Homo sapiens: one gene and its partners. The protein of the gene in region 2 purifies or fractionates together with the protein of the main gene of each other region. This does not show direct contact. Each region holds a gene or a part of one and is shown on either strand. Other genes may lie near its edges. The genes, in order: NIT2, CCS, ATOX1, SUCLG1, DPH5, PPA1 and POGLUT3.

The links.
Region 1: the proteins of CCS (region 2) and NIT2 fractionate together in Homo sapiens (co-fractionation; one large-scale study listed by BioGRID). This does not show direct contact.
Region 3: the proteins of CCS (region 2) and ATOX1 fractionate together in Homo sapiens (co-fractionation; one large-scale study listed by BioGRID). This does not show direct contact.
Region 4: the proteins of CCS (region 2) and SUCLG1 fractionate together in Homo sapiens (co-fractionation; one large-scale study listed by BioGRID). This does not show direct contact.
Region 5: the proteins of CCS (region 2) and DPH5 fractionate together in Homo sapiens (co-fractionation; one large-scale study listed by BioGRID). This does not show direct contact.
Region 6: the proteins of CCS (region 2) and PPA1 fractionate together in Homo sapiens (co-fractionation; one large-scale study listed by BioGRID). This does not show direct contact.
Region 7: the proteins of CCS (region 2) and POGLUT3 fractionate together in Homo sapiens (co-fractionation; one large-scale study listed by BioGRID). This does not show direct contact.

Annotation. Positions count from the first base shown.
Region 1 is NC_000003.12:100,348,257-100,351,756, reverse strand, and holds part of NIT2 (omega-amidase NIT2), read right to left. Parts: intron 2,955-3,500; coding exon 2,876-2,954; intron 1-2,875. UniProt on the Homo sapiens protein: Has omega-amidase activity. The role of omega-amidase is to remove potentially toxic intermediates by converting 2-oxoglutaramate and 2-oxosuccinamate to biologically useful 2-oxoglutarate and oxaloacetate, respectively.
Region 2 is NC_000011.10:66,599,685-66,603,184, reverse strand, and holds part of CCS (copper chaperone for superoxide dismutase), read right to left. Parts: intron 2,697-3,500; coding exon 2,636-2,696; intron 1-2,635. UniProt on the Homo sapiens protein: Delivers copper to copper zinc superoxide dismutase (SOD1).
Region 3 is NC_000005.10:151,742,322-151,745,476, forward strand, and holds the end of ATOX1 (copper transport protein ATOX1), read right to left. Parts: intron 639-3,155; 3' UTR 501-638; downstream 1-500. UniProt on the Homo sapiens protein: Binds and deliver cytosolic copper to the copper ATPase proteins. May be important in cellular antioxidant defense.
Region 4 is NC_000002.12:84,428,281-84,431,780, forward strand, and holds part of SUCLG1 (succinate--CoA ligase [ADP/GDP-forming] subunit alpha, mitochondrial precursor), read right to left. Parts: intron 3,380-3,500; coding exon 3,228-3,379; intron 1-3,227. UniProt on the Homo sapiens protein: Succinyl-CoA synthetase functions in the citric acid cycle (TCA), coupling the hydrolysis of succinyl-CoA to the synthesis of either ATP or GTP and thus represents the only step of substrate-level phosphorylation in the TCA.
Region 5 is NC_000001.11:100,994,785-100,998,284, forward strand, and holds part of DPH5 (diphthine methyl ester synthase), read right to left. Parts: intron 1,295-3,500; exon of another isoform or gene 690-1,294; intron 366-689; coding exon 326-365; intron 1-325. UniProt on the Homo sapiens protein: S-adenosyl-L-methionine-dependent methyltransferase that catalyzes four methylations of the modified target histidine residue in translation elongation factor 2 (EF-2), to form an intermediate called diphthine methyl ester.
Region 6 is NC_000010.11:70,223,430-70,226,929, forward strand, and holds part of PPA1 (inorganic pyrophosphatase), read right to left. Parts: intron 1-3,500.
Region 7 is NC_000011.10:108,474,385-108,477,884, forward strand, and holds part of POGLUT3 (protein O-glucosyltransferase 3 isoform 1 precursor), read right to left. Parts: intron 3,328-3,500; coding exon 3,223-3,327; intron 569-3,222; coding exon 443-568; 3' UTR 1-442. UniProt on the Homo sapiens protein: Protein glucosyltransferase that catalyzes the transfer of glucose from UDP-glucose to a serine residue within the consensus sequence peptide C-X-N-T-X-G-S-F-X-C. Can also catalyze the transfer of xylose from UDP-xylose but less efficiently.

The DNA of each region.
Region 1 (3,500 bases), on a different chromosome or scaffold from region 2:
ATTTGTCAATTTTGGCTTTTGTTGTCATTGCTTTTGGTGTTTTAGACATGAAGTCCTTGCCCATGCCTATGTCCTGAATGGTAATGCCTAGGTTTTCTTCTAGGGTTTTTATGGTTTTAGGTCCAACGTTTAAGTCTTTAATCCATCTTGAATTAACTTTTGTATAAAGTGTAAGGAAGGGATCCAGTTTCAGCTTTCTACATATGGCTAGCCAGTTTTCCCAGCACCATTTATTAAATAGGGAATCCTTTCCCCATTGCTTGTTTTTCTCAGGTTTGTCAAAGATCAGATAGTTGTAGATATGCGGCGTTATTTCTGAGGGCTCTGTTCTGTTCCATTGATCTATATCTCTGTTTTGGTACCAGTACCATGCTGTTTTGATTACTGTAGCCTTGTAGTATAGTTTGAAGTCAGGTAGCGTGATGCCTCCAGCTTTGTTCTGTTGGCTTAGGATTGACTTGGCGATGCGGGCTCTTTTTTGGTTCCATATGAACTTTAGTTTTTTCCAATTCTGTGAAGAAAGTCATTGGTAGCTGGGTATATACCCAAAGGACTATAAATCATGCTGCTATAAAGACACATGCACACATATGTTTATTGCAGCACTATTCACAATAACAAAGACTTGGAACCAACCCAAATGTCCAACAATGATAGACTGGATTAAGAAAATGTGGCACATATACACCATGGAATACTATGCAGCCATAAAAAATGATGAGTTCATGTCCTTTGTAGGGACATGGATGAAATTGGAAATCATCATTCTCAGTAAACTATTGCAAGCACAAAAAACCAAACACCGCATATTCTCACTCATAGGTGGGAATTGAACAATGAGAACACATGGACACACGAAGGGGAACATCACACTCTGGGGACTGTTGTGGGGTGGGGGCAGGGGGGAGAGATAGCTTTAGGAGATATACCTAATGCTAAATGACGAGTTAATGGGTGCAGCACACCAGCATGGCACACGTATACATATGTAACTAACCTGCACATTGTGCAAAGTTACCTTACTGCATAAGCCAGTGGTTCTCAGCAAGGAGCAATGTTGCCCACCAAATTTGACAATGTCTAGAGATCTTCCTGACTGTCGTGACTAAGGAGATGCTACTGACATCGAGCAGGTAGAGGCCACAGATGCTGCTAAACATCCTACCATGCACAGGACAGCCCCCACACAAAGAATTACACACCTAAATGTCAACAGTGCCACTGCTGAGAAAGCCTGCTATAAGCTAACATAAGAGAAGAGCTTCTCTGGTTAAAGCAAGTCAAGGTGGCCGGAGAGAATGGAGTGGCCTTATGAGAGCAATACACCTTGCAGGCCACATGGCGCTTCCATGCCCATGGTGGCAGTCCCACCACCTCAAATAGAACAAAAATTGCAGCTCGCAGTCCAGGTACACCAAAGCACCTCACCTCGGAGCCCTCGAGACTTAACAGACCCATGCTGGGTCATCTCAGTATCCCAGAAACTTCTCACTTTTGACAAAACTGTACCTTCACTGATACTCATGGCATCTTATACCCCTACCCCCATCTTCCACCATGCAACCAGCTAAAACCTCTTTCCCTTACATTAAACATTACCACCATCTCTAGAAGTGAGAACAGCAGCTACCTCTAGGCAGAGGGAGGAGTACTAACTAGAAAGGGGCAAAAAAGGGAGCATCCTCGGGGGCTGGAAATGTTCTGTTATGTTCATCTTGGTGGCAGGTGAATACACAAAAATTCACCAACCTCTATGCTTAAAATTAGTACACTTTTTTTGTATTACTTCAACTTTTAAAAATTCTAAAGAAAACCATCATCTCAGACCAGCATTTCATGGGCTGTAGAGCACTTTACAGACAGACAGACACACTCACAGTCACATTCATTTTCCCTTCCATCTTATGTCCACCTATGCTATTTGCCCTTCACCACCTCTCAGCCTTAGAAGACTAAGGAAAGGCACCTGTGACCTGCCAAAGATGCTTGTGCAAAGCCCTGGAGTTATAGGTTAGAAGAACAAGAGCTTCTCATGAGTTTCTTGGCACAGTACCCTCAGGACTAGTAGGATGGTGTGAAGGAGGGGGTAGGATAAGCATCCTGATCTGAATGGCATAGAATCAGCTGGGTACAGACCACAAATCTCTCCCTAGGTCAAGCTAAACTAATCCCTGCCTTTTAATTGGCTTCTGGGGCTCTGAAGACATAAGCTCTGTGGTTCTCAATTTCTCTGTAAAAGTTGCTGGAACTGACTTAAGAGGGACCAATCCACATCTAATCACAGAAAAATGAAATCCCTTCCCATCTAATACACTGAATATTGAAAATGCCAAAACCACAGTTCCGGCAGGGCTTGGGGCTCACACCTGTAATCCCAGCACTTTGAAAAGCTGAGGCGGGAAGATCGCTTGAGGCCAGGAGATTGAGACCAGCTTGATCAACAGAGTGAGGCTCTATCTCTACAAAAAATAAAAAATTAGCAAGGCATGGTGGCGCATGTTTGTAGTCCCAGCTACTCAGGAGGCTGAGGCAGGACGATCTCTTGAGCCCAGGATTTCAAGGCTGTAATGAGCTATGATTACACCACTGCACTCCAGCCTGGGCAATGGTAAGACCCGTCTCTTAAAAAGAAAAAAAAAAAAAAAAAAGTACAGTTTCCAAAATCCATGAGGTTGGTATTGTGGCTTCTGAGGAGAAAGTGACGTGCAGTAGAAGTCCTCCTTATAGCTTCATCCTTTCCAACTGCATTTGGATACAAGGGCATCCTGAGTCAGGGACAGAATCCACATCAGGAAGGCTGGCACCTCCACCCAACCGGAAATCTTTCTACAAAGAGGACATGCCGAGAGGCTTGAATATATGGTTCCTTTCTTACCGGCTTCGCTGAAGTAACTCCCAATGGGCTGGTCCAGTGGTCAGATTAAAAGCTCCTGGATATACCAACAGCTGGCAGCCTTGGGGAGAGAAAAGCCAAAGAACAGTGGATGCAGTGAGCACTCAACAAAACCAGTCCTCCCCACTGTTCCTTATCTAGCAGGAACTGAACTCAAACTTTCCCAAACATAAAAAGATGTCAGCCAAGTCAGACAGTGCCAGCAGCAATTAAGATATGGCTCTGAATTCCTTTAATACGAACACGTAAGTCACACACATATGGACACACAAGAAAAGTGGTGTTGATGACCAAAATCACATGTGACTTTGAGACAGAAATAATACAGGACGGTCGCAAGAGAACAGAAAATTCCAGGCAGCAGTTTCATATGACTAGCAAAAAGAAACTGTTGAAATAGCTGCCTACGCTAGGGGCTAAGACCCTGAGAAACTAGGGCTAAGACCCAGTGGACTCAATATGGTGCTGGGTTTGACCTAGGTTTCACCTAGGACTTCATTATCCTCATTATAAGCTCATTAACATACTAAATCACACACCCACCCGTGCCATGATAGTTTCTGGAACACCCGTATTTGGTGAAAAAATGAGTGGCACAATTCCGAGA
Region 2 (3,500 bases):
GGCAGGGGCAATAGGCAGGGGGAGTGGGGTATTGAATGTCCACATCAAGAAGCTAGGCCCAGCTTGTACTCTCAGGCACTGGGAGCCAAGACAAGTTTCAGGCAGGGGCATGGCCTGGTTACTCCAGGCTTCAGAACAATCCTTCTAGTGCAGTCTATGAAAAGTAAAGACTGGAGCAGGGTGAGGAGAGAACAGAAGGGAGCTTAGAGATCAGTTAGGAGATGTGCAAGGGACAACCAGGCTTGAATGCAAATTCCCACATGGAATTCTTTTCCACCTGGGAAAAGCAGATGCTAAAACCCAACAGCAACTTGCCAGTCACCGTGGCCTTGGCTGGTCAGCTCCTGCTCAGTTCTTCCTTGTCTAAGTTAAGGGATTGGGTGAGGTACAGCTGCTGATGCCAGCCCCTTCTGATTCCCTGCCCCACCTGGGGCCCAGGAAGAAAACACAGGTCACAAGACAGGCTCCTGCCCTTCAGAAACACTCCCTGCCATTCCATGCCTTGAGGGCTTTGCCCGGGCAGTTTCTTTTGCTGGGCTTGCCAATCCCACTCTTACCCTCTTCAATGCCTACTTCCTGCCCATCATCTTTCAAGGCTGCATGAGGCGAATGGCCTCTATGATGTGCCTCCCTTGAGTGTGGGCTGGACCTAGTGTCACTTCTAAGATTAGGTTACAAAAAGAATGTGGCTTGAGTCTTGGACGCCCTCTCTCAATCTCAATCTCTCTCTCTCTCGCTCATTCACTCTGAGAGAAGCCAACTGCCGTGTTGTTAGCTGCCCTAGGGAGAGACCCATGTGGCAAAGAACTGATGTCTCTGGCCAACAGCCAAGGAGGACCTGGGGCCTGCCAACAGCAACATGAGCAAACCTGGAAGCAGATTCTCCCCACGTGGGGCCCTGAGATGACTGCAGCCCCGAGAGAGACCCTGAGCTGCAGGCACCCAGCTAAGTCACACACAAATTCCTGCCCCAGAGACAGTATATGTTTGTTGTTTTAAACTCCTAACTTTGGAGTCATTTGATTTGCAGCAGCAGATTACTAATCACTGAGCATAAGCATGGCACTGTGCAATGGACTCTATAAGAAATGCCTCTCCAATTTCCCAGAACAGGGAGTAAAAACTTTTGATCATTAGAAATGTGACAGGGTGGTTGGGCACAGTGGCTCATGCCTGTAATCCCAGCACTTTGGGAGGCCAAGGCAGGCGGATCACTTGAGGTTGGGACTTCAAGACCAGCCTGGCCAACATGGCAAAACCTCGTTTCTACTAAAAATAAAAAAAAGAAAAAGAAAAAAAAAAAATGTGGCAGAGGCCAGGCATGCTGGCTCATGCTCATAATCCTAACACTGGGAGGCCGAGGAGGGAGGTCTGCTCAAGCCCAGCAGTTTGAGACCAGCCTGAGGAACATAGTGACACCCTATTTCTACCACCAAAAAAACAAAAAAAAAAAATTAGCTGGGCATAATGGTACATGCTTGTGGTCCCAGCTATCAGGTGAGGTGGGAGGATTGCTTGAGCCCATGAGTTCAAGGCTGTAGTGAGCCATGATCACAGCACTGCACTCCAGCATGGGCAACAGAGTGAGATCCTATCTCGGAAAGGAGAGGGGAGGGGAGGGGAGGGGAGAAAGGAAAAGGAAAAGAAACAGAAGAAAAGAAAAGCATGATAGGTAACAGAGCTGTGAAAAGTCCAAAAAATCAGTAACATGCATTAAGCAACACATACCATGGTTTCAATTGTTTTGTGGCACAAGGTTGCAAACCCATCAAGATAGAAAATAGCCCAGTCAGAGCCGGGCACAGTGGCTCACGCCTGTAATCCCAGCACTTTGGGAGGCTGAGGTGGGTGGATCACTTGAGGTCAGGAGTTCAAGACTGCCTGGCCAACCTGGTGAAACCCCATCTCTACTAAAAATACAAAAATTACCCGGGTGTGGTGGTGTGCACCTGTAGTCCCAGCTATTAGGGAGGCTGAGGCAGGAGAATCGTTTGAACTTGGGAGGCGGAGGTTGCAATGAGCTGGGACTGCGCCATTGCACTCTAGCCTGGGCAATAAGAACAAAACTCCATCTCAGAAAATAAAATAAAAAAACCAAATGATTGAGTAACTAAAAATACAACTAGTACTCAGATAAGGCAAAAATCATTAAGGCAACACACAATTCCCTGAAGATTGGGAAATGATTCTCTGCTGAAAAATGAAACTCCAGGACCGGGGTGTTAGGGAACACCAGGGACAGCCTTTTCAGTTTAGGTAAAACCCTCAACTTCCATATTTCACTTCCTCCCACTGCCCCTGCCCCTCAGGCAGATGAACTATTCACTGTGGGCTCCAGGACCTCTTGCAGGCTCCTGCAAGGATGATCTCACTGCCTGGAAACCATGGAATTCAGTAATCTCCCCCAGAGACTGTGTGCTCCTTGGGTCAGGCACTGGGGCTGTAATCTATTGTATCCCCTGGGCCTTGATCACAGAAAGTGTCAACAAATGTTTCCAAACTCAGCAAAATAAAATGAGAGGAAAAGACTCCACCAAAAAGGAATCACACTGTTATGATCCCAAGAGCTGCCTGCCCTGCCTCTGAGACTTTGGGTCCTCTCTCAGCCCAAGCCCAAACCCAGACAGACACTTACCCGGTCAGAGTCCTGGGGGCCCCCATGAGATGCTCCATCAGGGTTAAAGTGATTCCCACAGCTAAGAAAGAAAGGAAACAGGTGGGCAGGAAAGCAGCTCACAGGCCAGGTGCTCTACCCTCTCATCTATTTATATTTGCTTCATTCATTCATTCATTCATTCATTCAACAAACAGGCCTACTCTGTGCTGGGCTTTGGGTAGAGGGCACCGAGAAGAATCAGACATGGGTCCTGTCCTGAATAAGCTTCTGGCTCAGGGGACTCACAGATGAGTAAACAACTAGTTATATCACAGCATGACAAACACCATGGCATGGGGACCCTTCCTTTGCTGTGTCCAGAAGTCCCCTTCCATCTCAGAGGCAGTAAGGTGGTTATAAGCAGGACCTTCAAGATCAGATTTTATTTTTTTTCTTGAGACAGAGTTTTGCCCTGTCACCCCTGAGCTGGAGTGCCGTGGTGCAATCTCAGCTCACCACAACCTCCACCTCCTGAGTTCAAGTGATTCTCCTGCCTCAGGAGATTACGGGCCTCCCTAGTAGCTGGGATTATGGGCACATGCCACTGCACCTGGCTAATTTTTTTTTGTATTGTTAGTAGAGATGGGGTTTCACCATGTTGGCCAGGCTGGTCTTGAACTCCTGACCTCAGGTGATCCGCCCACCTCAGCCTCCCAAAGTGCTAGATTACAGGTGTGAGCTACTGTGCCCAGCCAAGGTCAGATCTTGACTCAAACCCCAACTCTACCTTTTACCTGCTGTGGACCTTTGGCAAGTCATTTAACCTCTGTGAGCCTCAGTTTCCTCATCTGGAGGTTGTGCCTGTGTGTATGTGCCTCACAGAGTATTGGTGAGGGCCCAGTGT
Region 3 (3,155 bases), on a different chromosome or scaffold from region 2:
GATTTTTTAACCAGCAATCACTGCTGTAATTAATTTACATGTTTCATTTCATTTAATCCCCACAACCACCATTTGCAGTAGATGCTATCATCACATTTTGTCTGTGGACACTGAGAGGTTAAGTGGCCCAGCTAGGAGGTACTGGAGCTTGAACTCTATCCCAGGCAGTTTGTCTCCACAGCCTCTTCCTACTATTCCACTTGCTTAACATTTGATAATCTCTTGTGCAATTCACTTGATAGACAAATTTTTTCAAAATATAGAGTCTATGAAACTGGTGAAAAGAAAGGGGATCACTGTTCTGGGTCAATGCCTCCACTTTATAGGTGAGGAAAAAATGAGGCCCAGAGAGGGGAAGTGATTTGCTAAAGATCACACAGCAAAGAATCAGAATCTACAGGGTGTCTGACTCCCAGGTGGGAACTCTCAAAACTCCAACCCAAGTAAGCATAACCACCTACATGTGAGCAAGCAACACCAAGACCAGGCAAGACAACATCTCCAACAAAAGCAGCTTGATTTTATTGCAGGGAAGCTAGGAAGGAATAGGACAACTGAGGGTCTCCGCAGGAACACCATCACCCGGCATGACTGCCAAGTCCCAGGTCTGTCTGGAAGCCAGCGGGAGGATCAGCATCCTAGGAAAGATGGAAAGTTAGATGGAACAAAGGTGCCATCTGGTGTGGACATAGCGACATTGCAAAGGCAATAAATGCACTAAGAGACAGGGGTGACGCAGGGGTGCACTAAGAGTCTTGCACTAAAAGGCAGGGGTGAGGTGGAAAACGCAGGGTGCAGATGCAGGAGCAGGACTAGAGCCCCAGTGTCCAGCCCTGCACACTGCTCCCATGAAGTCTGTTATACTTAGGTTGGCTGGAACGCATTAACCTTGCTAAGCCAATCACTGCCAAAGCCCTCTTCTGGGGAATTTCCAGGGCTGCCAGGATACCCAGTCAACAGCACTCTCTATCCTGTTACAGGTTGGAAAGGCAATGAACAAAATCATGGCAAATAAATCTGCCAAGAGTCAGATGATCAAGGTGACTTCAAAACCAATAAACACTCTATCTTTGAGGTTCCCAAGCCTGGCTTCAAATCAGTCACTGAGGAGCCTCTTAAAACAGACTTCAAAGACATGCTGCCTGAGCATGTGGACTAAAGCTGGCTTATTGGGTGATTCTTACTGAGTACTGTGCATCTGAATTTCCAGGAGCCTTTCCAAACAATACATGGTTACTGAAATATGTACAGGTAAGATTGCATGATGTCTAGAATTTGCTTCAAAATAATCTGGGCAGGAGGGAGTGGGCATGATGTCTAGAATTTGCTTCAAAATAATCTGGGTGTTTCATCACCCAGATGAAACAATGAGGACAGTGGAGTTTCTAATCCAAGATGTGTGCATTAGGGCTCCCCCACATGGATACAGATAGCTCCAGAAGAGTTTTTTTCCTTCTCTTCCTTAATTCCTTCTTGTCACAGAGCACTTTTATCAAAAAATAACAGGCCTTGGTGAAATAAATACTAACTGTTGGATCTGAGTGACGGGTACTTGGGGATTCATTCTATTACTCTACTTACACATGTTTGAAACTTCCTATCATAAAAAATCTAAAGTAGATTAAAAGTACCATGAAAATTATTAAGTATTGGAAGGAATGATTTACAACACATGCTATGACTTGAATGAATCTTGAAAACATTATGCTACATGGAAAAAGGCAGACACAAAAAGGTCACATATAATGTAATTCTTTTTATATGACATGTCCAGGGTAGGCAAATCCAGAGTAGCAGAAAGCAAATTAGTGGCTGCCAGGGGATGGAGAGATGGGTAGTGGGGAGTGACTTCTTAATGGATACAGGGTGTGTTTCTGAGATGATGAAAAAATTTTGAAACTAGAGAGAGATGGTGGTCATACAACATTGTGAACACACCAAATGCCACTAAATGATAGACTTTAACCCATTTATGCCTAGTGTTCCATTATTGGAACGCTAAGCTTGCAGGAGTTATTTATATCCTACTGTTCAAGGTCATCACCAAGGTTTGATTTTTCACATAAAAAACTTTGCAATATTCAGCATAAATGGGTTAAAATAGTTATTATGTCTTGTGAATTTCATCTCAATAAAATAACATGAGAAAACATGTTTTCTATGAGAAAAACACATTAAGCTACACATGGTTTACATCCAACAGATATTACTTTTTTAGTTAAAAAAGTTCGTATGCCCAGGCCTGGAGTTTCTAATCCAAGATGTGTGCATTAGGGCTCCCCATGTATATAGCTAGTTCAGGAAGAGTATTTTTTTCCTTCTCTGCCTCCATTCCTTCTTGTTACAGAGCGTTTTTATAAAATACAGTCTTACGGGAAGCCCAATATGACACAGGACCGTTTGGGAGCTATGGAGGGTCCAAAGCCCCATCCACTCACCCTCCCTACAAAACCCTAGGGGTGGAGGAATGATGTAAGAAACACTGTTCTTCAACATGCTGGAAACCGCTGATGTTTTACTTCCCTAGAGGATAAACTTTCATATGTGGAGAGATTGCACAGCAGTCCCCACAAGGCAGGAAAGCAGGTTGGAGGTTTTAGCCCCATTTTACCGATGGGAAGACCAAATCTCTGTAATGTAAAAAGTCCCCAAAGTCAGTGTGAAATGAGGAAAGTTGGAATTAGAATCCTAGATTCCTCATTATTCATCCTGGGTTCATTCCTGAATATGGGTTCTATCTATGGATGGAAAGTGCATGACGAAAACAGATGCATCTGACATCTTGTAACTTGCATGTGATGTTACCACATACACAGAACACTGCTATGACTCAGGTTCCAAATGTATGCCTTTGGGAAGGAGGCTATCCTCAAAGAGGACCTACCAGTCAGTGTGGCTAGCCTCTGTCCAGGGGGTCTCTGTGGGCCCATTCACAGGGACAATGCCACCAGTAACAGTTACAGAACTCCGATTCAGGATATCTGACTTTCTTCCTGCCTCTGCTACTCACCAGGGTGGGACTCTGGTTGAATCACTTCCCCTCTCTTGGCCTCATTTTTCTCAGTCACGTCAGGGCACCAAACCACATCAGAGGTGTGGCGATCATTGTAATTCACGAGTCAAATGCACTACATGGGCAGTGGCAGCCAGGAGTG
Region 4 (3,500 bases), on a different chromosome or scaffold from region 2:
TGTGCCTTTTACACCCTTCTACTATTAAATTCAGCACACTGGCTATAACCTATTCCCCGTGTGTTCTTCTACTAAACTATGAATTCCCTGAACACAGAGGTTATATTTTCACTAACTTCGGTATGCCTGGCACCTACTGTAGTACCTATGGTATAGAATTAAAAAGAAAAGACTCCACAAATTATTTACTCATTCACTCATAAGATCTACATAGAATATGAGAATCTCATGTTTGAGTGGCATTAATTTGTATTTGATTCCACTCCCCTGTTCCCCAAAAAGTGGGAATATTGTTGCACTAGAAAGGATCAAGACTTTGTTGAGCCTAGAATGGCAAACAAATTTGCATCTGTCCCATTAACAAAGAGCCATTGGAGGCTTATTTGTTTTTGTTTTTTAAGTGGAGAGAACTACAACTAAAAGACTATGGGGAAGTGTAGTCTGAAAATAGGACACAAAAATGATGAAAGGTATGTCTAAAAACAGAAAGGCCAGTTAGAATGCTATCAGTGTAGTCTGAGCCTATGCCCAGGATTGATGACTCTTTGTCCTTAACTCCTTCAATCTGACACCTCATCCTTCCATGGTGAAATGGAGAAGTCAGACAAACCTGGGTATGAATCTCACCCCAGTTCGTTTGCTGTATACCTACCATTGTCAAGTTACTAATCTTCCTGTACCAGTTTTCTCATTCATAAAGAAAGAACAAAAACAACTTACCAAAGCATCAGGATAAAAGTTAAACACCAGAACGTTTGCAAATAATTATCATCATTGTAATGATAACAAGAAAGGCAGCAGCAGATCATGTTTATCGAGTGTTTACACCAAGTATTACACTAGGCATTTTATATAATGCAGCATCTGAACTGCTTAACTTACAATCTTGTACACATTAGGTTCTCAATAAAAATTAATTCCATAACAACTAACCAGGAATAGGAAACATGTTGCCAAATGAAACAAAATGTCTATGTTTCATTTTTCCCACTAAATACTAGGCTATTCCAGGGATTCAGAATTGGGCCCAAATACATTTTAAATTCAACTTAACACAGCACAATGCTGTATTAACCGAAACTTTTTTTTTTAAAGAAGTCAGTTTTTACTTATATTTCAAACTGTACAACTTTCTGAACACAAGGGAATCTAACATTTTACTCCAATCCTTAACAATCTACTCTTCCATTTACATGACCTGTATTGGTGCCCACTGTGCCAGGGGACTGGGCAGGGCACTGAAGTTAACAGTTCCCTGCAGTCCATAACACAGTCTAGAGTGAAAGTCAGATACTAAGCATTCCTTGCAGAAGGAACAAGCAAAGGCAAGTGAGAATGAAAACTGGCATGTCAGATGGAAAACTGATCTAAAAGGGAAGGTTTGGATGGTATGTGAAGGACTGGAATACCATGCTAAATCTGCCTTTAGCTGACATGTAATGGGAAACATTACATGGGAAACACTGTCTGATGTGAACCAAGGACAAACAGCACCAATACCCATGTTTCAGAAGGGCAGATAATTTGGGTGGCCATAAACAGAATGGCCTAAGAGTAAAGGGGGGTGGTTGGAGAAAATAAGAGAGATCAAGAAGGAAACCACTGAGATGGTCCAGATGAGATGGGATGAGGACCCAAACCAAAGTAGATGGACTAAGTACAGACAAGGCTCTGAATCCAGACAAACCTCTGATGTCTCAGAGACAGATCTTGGTAACTGAGTAGAAACAGGATAAGAGAGAAATAAAAGTTAGTTCTCAGGTTTCTGCCATAGAAATAGGCACAGAAAATAGATCCAGGGAATGATAAAGAGGAGGAAAACCAGAAAGAAACCAAGAGGATGGAGAGGATGACGAATGAATCAAGGCCACTGGTGACCTCTGTGCAAACACAATGTCAGGAGAGTAAGAAGATTCCACAGCAGCCAGTGGCTCAGTAAGAGTGCTTACTAAGTGCCGGGCACTACTTTGCTATACGTTACTAAGTCATTTAAACTTCGCAGTCCTTACAATAACTCTAGGAGGCAGGCACTACTATATCGTCATTTTTCCAATAAGGAACCTGAGGCAACGAGAGATTAAGCATTCCCAAGGTCATATAGCTTCTAAGTGACAGACAGGAGCCTGATTGCTGAGGATTCAAGAATGAATGAAAAGTAAGGAAAGAGAATGAGAGAATGAGGGTAAACCTGAGTCATATCTAATATGGGAGTTAGGGCTTAAAATCACCACAAAAGAAAATCAAGTATATTCAAAATAGCCCTTGAAAATTCCTTAAAACACAAATAAATATGCCTTGTTTTGTGTAAACCACCCTGTACATGATATTATTGGTTCCTTTAACTCTCCAGTATTATTTTATGTGGCATTTAATTCATTCACTGGTGGATTTTTTTCATACATATAGAGAGAAAGTGATCTCCACTCTCTTGCCTGGTCCCCTGAAGAAAAATTTTCACTCATTCCTCAGTATAAGAGAAATTCTGAAAATCAGTTGCTTGATTTTTTTCCCACAGTTCTCTGACACAACAATGGCCACAGCACAAATTCACTGAGTGGGGGCTGGTGGCCACCACACTGCTTCAGTCACTACCGCACCCCCATCTCTCCTTTCACCACAGGAACAGGGCTTAACTCCCTCAAGCTGAATGAAATGATGACATAACTCAACACTACTCCTTTACATTTAATTCTAAGTGAGAAGCAACAAGGAAAGCCTCCCCAGGACATAGACAGTAAAGCTTTTCTACTTGATCTCTGAAGGGAAGTGCCATTCCACAAGGAAAGTCTAAAACTGGAAGGAAGCCAGAGCCTGAAAAAAAGCACAAGGGATAGGATCTTTAGGTCAGCCTTGAAAAAGAGAAAAAACCACTTATTTCCCTCTGAGATCGGGAGAAAGAATACTGGTCACAGGTGAAAACCAAGTCTGCAGGTCAAGTGCGGGCTCTCGGGCTGATGGCCTGAATGTATCTGTTCAGCAGGAGAACGACTTACCTACCACAAAGTGTGGGGTGATGCCTGGGGAGGAGAGTTCAGAATAGAGAAGCAGAGAATCAACCCAGAAATAATACAGAATTGTCTGAGTGTCCAGTATAGAAGGCCCTGCTCAGAAAGTTTTATCTTTCATGTTTTCTCAAAAAATTCACCTTTGAAAAAATAAAAATAACTTCTGAAACAAGCCTCTGATATTAAGAGCAAAGAGCTATGTTTTTCCAAACCCAAACTTACTGAATTATGTTGCTTCAAAAATTCTGCAGCATTCTCTTCTGCATTACCACCAATTTCACCAATCAATATGATGCCTTCTGTGGCAGAATCGTTCAAAAAGATTTCGAGGCAGTCAATAAAATCTGTTCCATTAAAAGGATCACCTCCAATGCCTGAAAAAGTTGAAAAATATCAATAGCTGGAAATTTAAGGGTGAACCATGGAATTTAGGTCAATAAATGTTTTTAACTAGTTTGTCATTTTTCTTACCCTTCTCTCTTATATTTTTAAATG
Region 5 (3,500 bases), on a different chromosome or scaffold from region 2:
CCAAAGTGCTGGGACTACAGGCATGAACAACCGCACCCGGCCTCACACCCATGTTTTCAGAATCCCAACGCATTAATTCATTCCACAAACACTGAGTGTCTGTTAGATGCCAACCACTGTTCTCAGTGTTGAATCCACAAAATATATTGCTATTTCTACTCTATTATACTGCTTATCATTTCGTAAGAATAAAAATGCTTAATGTTCACACTGTTAATGAGAGCTCATTTTCAACCATCTTTAGAACTCAGGTCATTTAAGTAGAATGTATTGAATTGTTCAAGGAAATAAAACACATGTATGCATTCTCAGAATAATAACTTACTTGATTAGATTTTCCAAAGACTGCTCCTTTACTTTGATGTCTGTAGGAAGTAAAAATAGTTCTTTTAATTTAATTAAAAGCTTTATCCAAAACCCTATGTGTAAACCTCAGTTAAGAGTCACCTAAATTTTGGGGAAACACTCTTCCCTCACATTTTAATTAGCCACTTTCTTACAGTAACATAGAGAAGAATGGAAGCTTGTGGTTGTGCCACTAGTTAGAAAACAAACATGAACTTGGCCCTGAGACCATCCTGCTAACATCTAATTTCCTTTTGGAAAAGAAGACAAGGGAAAGAATTAGATAAACATTGGCATATACACTACTAACAGCTAATCACAATCTTTGTTTTCATTTCTACCAGCTAGTAACTGCACAGACCCATCTGAAAGCCCTTTGATAGATGTAATGTAAGTAGAAAAAAATCTTTTCCACATTTAAAAAAGTCTTTTGCTTTCTGACGAATGTTAACACATGCCATAATTTTGAATAAATACTTTAATTCTAAGTATTCATGCTTTTAACAGGGATTTGAGCATGGACTGTGTGTCAGACGCTGCGTCAGAGACTGGGATACCACAGGGACCTGACCAGATATAAACTCTGCTCTCTAGAAGCTTGACAGTCCAAGCATCACAAATATTTGATTCGGTATACTTTTTAATCACTCATGCTCAACTGAACTATTTGGTAAAAGGTAAAAAAGCAGAATCACTCTACATCCTCAAAGGAACTCAGTATACAACAGCAACAGCAACAGCTGCTTCCTGCTTTACATGCTGAAAACAAATGGTTCAGCCAAAGTTTGTTTTTGCAAAAATAAACATAGTGCAACTGAGGAGTCTTTAATAGACTTATGCAGATTTCCTAAGTGATTATAGAAGTGTTTCTTATAAAGGATATCAAAGAGTTTGCTTGGAAATTATAGCAGAGTTAATATTAAATACATATTTTTAAATGTTCTTGGAACCAGCATTGAAAGCCTTTTTCAGGTTTGAAATATCATTATTTATTTAATATTTCTACTTGTCTGTCACATTATGGAGAAAAAAACGAATGCCTGTTATTAAGAATGTGGCCTCCCTATAATCAATGGTGTTAGTCAACTTTCAGATTTCCTTTAAATTACGTTTCTAAGATTTTAAAAATTTTAACCCGTTTATTAATTCATTCACTCTGAGCTTCTGAAATGTTGTGATGAGATTTTTCATATTTTCAGTTGTCTTTACTTTTCAAATATGCTCTATAGAATCTGATTTTTAAAAGGAAGAGGGTTGAGGAGAATTTTTAGACGCAAATCCTTTTTAATCAAGGAGTGCATTCGTGACTTCGTCTCAAGCCAGACCCCGCATTACTTTTCCCTTGTCTTCACACAGTCCATAATTATTCCTCTCTATTTCTACTTGCTAGAATGTAAGGTTCTCTGATTCATCTTAGTACCAGGACCTAGCATAATGTGAAGTACCCAGAAGACACTCCATAAATGTCTACTGAATAAATTTACTCAAGTGACTCTCCTACCACTCAGTCACCAGCCCATATTAAACTATCCACTCTCTGGGCAACGTAAGTCCTAACTCCTTCATAAAGTCTTTGTTGACTTCTCCTCAAATGCTTTTTGTTCTTGGAAAGATCTACACAATTAATGCTATCTTTTATTAACCTCTAATTATATCATATATATTGGTCTTGTCTTTCTAAGTAAATTTTAAATTCTCTGTGTTTTCCTGCCATGGTTTATCCTCACTAATCCCTATGGAACTTAACCCACAGCAGGCATTGAATAAATACATACTAATTTAAATAATGAGAATGCCAGATGATAAAACGATGAGAACTATGGTTTGAGGATTTGAAATCATGACATCCTATACTTCACACTCTGTTCCTTCCTGCTTTTGTTAATGGAGCAAGGAAGATACATTGTTTAACCTTGTTTGTCTTTTCCCAGGAAAGCTAAGAAAAGGGGCAGCTCTTAGAAGGACAACTCAAGAGCCACATTTCTAGTTTGTCCTTCCTGCCTCTCCATACAATAGAATTTTTGTTCTTTAAACTTTCACGTGCACAACACATTAGTTCCAAACTAGATTTCAAAGCTTTGAGAGCAGGACCCACGTCTACACTTCCTTAGTATTCCAAAAGAAACTAACTCTACATGGGGCATAGGGTAAGCACTCAATAAATACCTGTACACTGATCTTCTATCTGCCTTTCCAAAGCTTCTGAAAAGATAAGTGCTGCTTCCTCTCCTTCCTATCTTTTTTTTTTGCTTTTGAGAAGGAGTCTCGCTCTGTGGTCCAGGCTGGAGTGCAGTGGTGCAATCTCAGCTCAATGCAAGCTCCGCCTCCTGGGTTCACACCATTCTCTTGTCTCAGCCTCCCGAGTAGCTGAGATTACAGGCACCTGCCACCACGCCCGGCTAATTTTTTGTATTTTTAGTAGAGATGGGGTTTCACCGTGTTAGTCAAGATGGTCTCGATCTTCTGACCTCGTGATCCACCCGCCTCAGCCTCCCAAAGTGCTGGGATTACAGGCGTGAGCCACCGCACCCGGCCTTTCCTGTCATTTTTAATGGATATATGGGGAGGTTATCAGGTAGCCTGCCTCTCAGATTCTTCCTTCCCTGTTCTGTTTTAGAACCTTTCAGTACTGTTATAAAACATATATTCTAGTATCTGAGCTCCAATGAATCCCCATTTTTCATCCCTCAGATACATCTACTTCTTTAGCAAAAGTCCTTTTAAAAATTATCCTTCGCCCGTCATCTACTTTGACCTTCTACCCACAGCTGGCCTTAACTGGATCTAACTTTGGGATAACAAGATGGATATATCTGATGGCATAGTCCACACCAACTCACAAGTCTTACAGTGTCCTTGTTAGTAAGGACTATAAAAAAAGTAAGACCAGTCTCTTTTTACAAGGAAAATTCAAAGACAAAATTATAAAGATAATTAATGATGAATGAAGCACTAAATCACACTGGCAATAAACTAAAATAAGAAAACATCATACTAGCTGATTGCAAATATTGGCATAAGACCAAAGAAAATGTGTTAGAGAAGCGTTTATGGCCTAATCTAGATCTATAATTAATTAGATGCCAAGAATAAAAGGGGGGCCGGGTGCAGTGGCTCAAGCCCATCATCCCAGCACTTTGGGAGGTTGAGACGGG
Region 6 (3,500 bases), on a different chromosome or scaffold from region 2:
GGCTGGTCTCTAATTCCTAGCCTCAAGTGATCCTCCTGCCTATGCATCCCTAGTAGCTGGGACTACAGGTGCAAGCCATCCTGCCCAGCTCTGTACTTGTAAGGAGGGGGTGTTCCACATACTTTAGCAGGAATTACTACTAAAGAACAACCTTCTTCTAGACATCTGGCTACAATTCAAAGAGTTGCTACTAGGTGAACAACAGTGATATTTAGGATTTTTCAGGGCAACTGATATGAGAAATTCAATGAATTTTATAGCAACAGAGTTGCTATAAAAACTATTACTGTTTTTATGCATTCTAATGATTCCAATATTCACGCACTTAAAAAATACTGATTTTAAGAAATTTCGTACTACCCAGTTACAAATTCATTCCTTCTTCTTTAATCCCAACTGGTTTCAGCTTTTACTTAGCTGGATCTTGGATTTACTATCTTGTTACTCCCACTGTTAGGACTTCCCAGAACTCCATCCTCCAATCCTACCATGCTTTGGAGTCTCAGTCATTGCTCTGGCATCAGAGCTCTCAGCTCTCTGTTAACAGTTTCAGAAAAGAAGGAAGTTAAGTCTCCCTAGAGGGATGATTTTGATAAACTCAATAATTACCTTGCTGATAAACCAGTGGGGGATAAGGGAAAAGGCAAACTATAACTTTAGCTCTTGTTCCCAAAGTCAGAAATATAACTGTCTATTTCAGGCCAGGTATGGTGGCTCGTGCCTGTAAACCTAGCACTTTGGGAGGCTGAGGCAAGAGGATTGCTTAGACTAGGAGTTCAAGACCAGCCTGAGCAACATAGACAGACCCTGTCTCTACAAAAAAAAAAAAAAAAAAAAGTCTATTTCCCTTCCCAGATTTACAATCATTTTATCAAGTAGTCAAGATGTTACAACAAAACATTAAAGATGTCCAGATTCTAAGGAAACTGGAAACTCAACAACTCTACATTATGTCACTCCATTAATCAAAAATATTTAAAATAAAAATGTTTCAGGAATAGAAGAAATATCTCCTATATCTTGGTTAGGTGTGTAACTTCACTAATTAAACAGGAATATTAATCACAGTAGTATGGTGAGGCCCCGTCTCATCTCCAAACTGGTTAGGGTCTTATGGACCAAGTCAGTAGTCTGACAAGTTGTTTACTAATAAATAGGCTACGGCCATTTGGTAGGCTGTTATTACTAATGCAGTTAAGTACATATATAGGGAACATGCTCTTAATTTAATTACAGCACGTCTTTAAATCCTAGCAGTTAAGTTCAATGTGTCTTTATTGAGACTTATTTCTTATTTATTTATTTTATTTTATTTTTTGAGACAGAGTTTCGCTCTTGTTACCCAGGCTGGAGCACAATGGTGCAATCTCGGCTCACTGCAACCTCCGTCTCCCGGGTTCAAGCAATTCTCCTGCCTCAGCCTCCCGAGTAGCTGGGATTACAGGCATGCACCACCATGCCCAGCTAATTTTTGTATTTTTAGTAGAGACAGGGTTTCTCCATGTTGGTCAGGCTGGTCTCGAGCTCCCGACCTCAGGTGATCCGCCCACCTTGGCCCCCCAAAGTGTTGGGATTACAGGCATGAGCCACCGCGCCCAGCATTGAGATTTATTTCTAACCCTGGATTTGGTAAATTCGATGAACTATACTACAGAATTATACCAAGTGGCTGACATTAGCATTTTCAAGTTGACTCATTGTGTGTTTCTCTAGATAACTTCAGAAATCTAGTAAATACCAGGCTTAGAAAGAAACACAAAAATCACCCTGTGGTCCCACCACTCTTATTTATTTATTTATTTATTTAGAGACAGAGTCTCACCTGTCACCCAGGCTGAAGTGCAGTGGCATGATCTCAGCTCACTGCAACCTCCGTCTCCGGGGCTCAAGTGATCCTCCTACCTCTGCCTCCTGGACCACAGGCACCTGCCACCACACCCAGCTAATTTTTTTTTTTCTATTTTTGGTAAAGACCGGGTTTCACCATGTTGCTGAGGCTGGTCATGAACTCCTGAGCTCAAGCAATTCGTCCACCTAGGCTGCCCAGAGTGCTAGAATTACGGGCATAAGCCACGGCACCCAGCCCACCCCCCATTTTTTAATCTTTATTGTTTTGCAATAAAATTTGGAGAAAAAACAGTAGAGGTAGAGAGAATTTTCTTCTAAATTTATCTAGAGCATAAACATAAAGCAAGAAACTAATCCAAACCAAGCTTTAACTTTTTTTTTTTTTTTGGAACTTATAGACTAGTTTTGGAGTATAAAATCCCTATCAGAAGAGCTCACGTAGTTAAAAGAAAATGTTCCATCCCCATAAAGATGCTTTCGAAAAGGTATACCAGATTTCACCATTTCCAAGAATACTTTATCTTATTCACTGCTCACCAAATGACAATGGCTCTTAATTCTAAGTTTTGGCTGTAAAGTTGGTTATATGATTCTAGAAGGATATACTCTAAGTTGTTAAAAGTATATGGATACCTGAAGTATTTCATCGAAAGTGACAGAAGTCTATTTGAGAAGCTATCAGAAAGAAATACGATGACCGAAGTTCACACTGTTGTGCCCCTTATTCACTTAGAATTGTGACTTAGCAAAGAAAGACATGACTTACACCAACCCAAAAAACATTTGTTCAACAAATTGTGTTAAGATTCCAAGGGAGATCATTAACTTATTAAAGTAAAGAAATTAAAACACATACACACAAAACTTTTAGTAATACTCATTTGTTTTCCAGTTACATAGATTTTCTACTCATTGCAGCTCAAACAAATGCCTGTATTTGCTACTACACACTACCATATGTACCTGTGTAGAGCAATAACTTAATTTGTCATGTCATAATTAAGAATAAGCTGCTGGCTGGGTGTGGGAGCGCACACCTGTAATCCCAGCACTTTGGGAGCTGAGGTGGGTGGACTGTTTGAGCTCAGGAGTTCGAGACCAGCGAAAGCCTGTCTCTACCAATACAAAAAAATTAGCCAGGTACGGTGGTGTGTGCCTGTAGTCCCAGCTACTCAGGAGACTGAGGTGGGAGGATTGCTCGAGCCCAGGAGATGGAGCCTGCAGTGAGCCAAGATCACAGCACTGCATGGGTGACAGAGTGAGACCCTGTCTTAAAAAAAAAAAGAAAAAGAAAGAAAAAGCTGCTATTTTTGCTATTTTTTCTTTTCAGATAAGCTTTATGATGACTAAATTTTGAAAACAGATATTCTAAGCATAATCTGTTTATTTTCCTGTCTTTACAAAATCAAGCAAAAGGGTCTGCATTTCCAGTTGTCAAACTTTTCTGTTTTGCAATGACTAATAATTTTGAGCGTGGAAACTTCCCCAAGAAAAATGCATTTATGCCAAATTGCAGATAATATTCTGTTAAGTTTCTGAAGCATCAATCTATTTGATTAGAGGCTTGACTTTCTTTCAGAAGGGGAAAAAAGAAACACATATTCCATATTTATATATGCTTCTATACGCTCCCAACAATCACCTGAAAAAAA
Region 7 (3,500 bases), about 42 Mb from region 2:
AAACTTTTTGAGTGCTGACACCACCACTTGGGTCGCTAAGATAGTGACACCTTTGCTTTCTGACAGTTCAATGTATACAAACTTTGTTTCATGCACAAATTATTAAAAATATTATATAAAATTACCTTCAGGGTATGTGAACAAGGTATATATAAAATATAAATGAATTTTGTGTTTAGACTTGGATCTCATCCCCAAGATACCTCATTATGTACATGCAAATATTCCCAAATCTTAAAAAATCTGAAGCCTGAAACACTCCTGGTCCTAAGCATTTCAGATGAGGGATACTCAACCAGTACTGCTATATCCATCTACATATATAAAGCCACCGGGAGAACTAGTCCACTTGGTGCAGTCTTCTATACTGTCCTTCACAGCTTAGATTCAATCTTTCCTTAAAGTGTAGCCGGGATACACAGGAGTGTGATTCTGGGCTGACTCAAAGTTCTTCTCTTGAAGGCTTTTTCCTGTGGCACTGGCAGATGGCTGTGCTATCTTCTGGCTGAGGAACAAGTTCCATTCCATCACGTACTTCGGGTTTGCTGGACTGGCGCTCGGCATATTTCTGAAACGTGGGTTTAAAGGGAACTGAAAGGTTAGTTCACACTGCATTCTGTTGACTCCCCCACCCACTCCCATCCGCAGTCACGCCATCTTTTCTAGTTGCTGTGTGTCTGCAGACTAAAACCAAAGGTCTGGTTTATTCCAGTCCTAAAGTTACATTTTAACTTTAGCTATCACAGGCACTAGTTATAATTCATAATCTAGCAAGAAACCCCAATCCACAATTTTATGTGTTGGTTGGAAGCCTCTACAAAAGGGATGCCAAGCCAGACGTCCCTACCTGAAACAAACAGCAGCTCTCAGCATTTATTTTCCACTTGTTATTGAATAATTAACTTTGTTGAATACTCAAGCCAGCAAACAAACAAGATAACCATCTGAAAAGTTGGCAGTCTCACACATTCTTTCTTTTAGGCCTATAGTCACACGCATTTTTGAATGGCAACAGGTCTGTGTAATGTTCCTCCACTGTGGCCCTGAGTGAAATATTTCTATAAATGGAGTTTTTTTTGTTTTTGTTTTTTTTTTTTTTTGAGACACGGTCTTACTCTGTCACTGAGGCTGGAGTGCAGTGGCGTGATCTTGGCTCACTGCAGCCTCCAACATCCTAGGCTCAAGTGATCCTTACACCTCAGTCTCCTAAGTAGCTGGGACTACAGGCGCGTACCACCATGCCCAGCTAATTTTTTTCATTTTTTGTAGAGATGGCGTTTCACCATGTTGCACAGCCTGGTCTTCAACTCCTGGACTCAAGCAATCTGCCTACCTCAGCCTCCCAAAGTGCTGGGACTACAGGCATGAGCCACCCTGCCCAGACATAAATTGGATATTTCAATTCAATGATTCCATGTCCCTTTTGCTGTATATTCCTGGTACTGGACCAAATGCAACAAAATGTTGACACAGTAGATAAGCCTAATTAATATTTTAGAGAGAGAAATTCCTAACATTAAAATTGAAACTATTTGGGAGGCTGAGGCTGGAGAATCACTTGAGGAACCAGGGAAACACGGCAAGAGCTTGTTTCTAAAAAAAATAAATAAATTAGCTGAGTGTGGTGGTGTAGTCCCAGCTACTAGTGGGAGGCTGAGGTGGGAGGGGGGAAGAATCGCTTGATCCTAGGAGGTTGAGGCTGCAGTAAGCTGTGATCATGCCACTGCACTCCAGCCTAGGTGACCGAGTAAGAAATATATATATTTTTAGATGCATTTTGCTCTTGTTGCCCAGGCTGGAGTGCAGTGGTGCAATCTAGGCTCACTGCAACCTCTGCCTCCCAGGTTCAAGCGATTCTCCTGCCTCAGCCTCCTGAGTAGTTGAGATTACAGGCATGTGCCACCACACCTGGCTAATTTTGTATTTTTAGTAGAGACGGGGTTTGACCATGATGGCCAGGCTGGTCTTGAACTCCTGACCTCAGGTGATCCACCCTCCTCGACCTCCCAAAGTGCTGGGATTACAGGTGTGAGCCACTGCACCCGGCCAAGAAATTGTTAAAAAAACTGTTTAACGATTAAAGCTAGACCAACAGAGGGGACAGACCAATTTAAGGGAAGGAAGGGCTGCTTCTAGTAAATAGTGTAACTTATCATTTTTATTTTTCTATGAAAATGAAAATATGAGAGGGTAGTATCCACAAGCATCTAGGGAAATTTACTTTTACTATGCCTACAGAAAAATAAATTTAGGTTAAAAACAAGAACATAATTTCCTTTTTTTATTCTTCCTGTCTAGATTTTTCTGAGTAAAACTCAAGGTAGTTACTCAAAAGACCAATCCTCGGATTCCCAATAAACACTATACTTCAGGATTCAGCCCTAAGGTGTTAGAACTGTTATACATATTTCTCATTAGTTTGTTTGCTACAGCAAGCTAAATATTTGCATTCTGCCTTGTACTATAAAAGGCATGAATCTTAAGTATCAAGGAGAATAAGGAGGCGACATTTTGAGTAAAAAGGGATGTTAATGATCTCCAGTCCAACCATCTTGTTTTCCAAATAAGAAAAAATGTTTTTCTCTGAGGTTCCAGAACACCTACACTAGGAATTCAATAAAGCATTTAATAAAAGAGAGCACTGAGAAGATGGGAGGAGTTGCTAATCTATATTTGTGAGGGCTCCCAGCGTCGTTTTACATAATATGGAATAAAGATGAAAATATGGAGGCCACGGCTGGGCGTGGTGGCTCACACCTGTATCCCAGCACTTCAGGAGGCCAAGGCAAGGCAGATCACCTGAGGCCAGGAGTTCAAGACCAGCCTGGCCAACATGGCGAAACTCCGTTTCTACTAAAAATACAAAAATTAGCTGGGCATGGTGGCGTGTACCTGTAATCCCAGCTACTTGGGAGTCTGAGGCAGAATTGCTTGAACCTGGAAGGCAGAGGCTGCAGTGAGCTGAGATTGAGACACTGCACTCCAGCCTGCATGACAGAGTGAGACTTCATCTCAAAACAAACAAACAAACAAAAAACAAAAAAAAGGGGGCCACCAAATGAAGACTTAGCACTATCTTTCCCTAGGCAAGTGCCTTGGCTTAGCCAGTGGTCCATAGGCTTGACTGTGAGTCCTTCAGGAAGCCAGGCAGGAAGTGTACAGGCCAAGCGGGTAGTCTGAGGACACCCGACCCAGCAGTGTGGACGGACACTCTGAACTGACCTGCAGTACTTGGTAATAGTAGCAGTAAAGCCTGTGTGGCTGTAGTAGGTCCCTAGCCATCAACTGTCCTTCTTTTGCAATCTTCTTGGCTTCTTCATCATTTTCCTGAAAGGTTAAAAAAAATAAAAATGAATGAAAATTACTACTGCGACCCACAAAGAGAGGGTTAAGTGTGAGGTGGGACAGATGTGGGGTTGAAAGTGAACAGCATGGGAAAGCCAGAACATAATGGAATTATAACTTAAGAATGAGGCTACAGGGGCCGGACATGGTGGCTC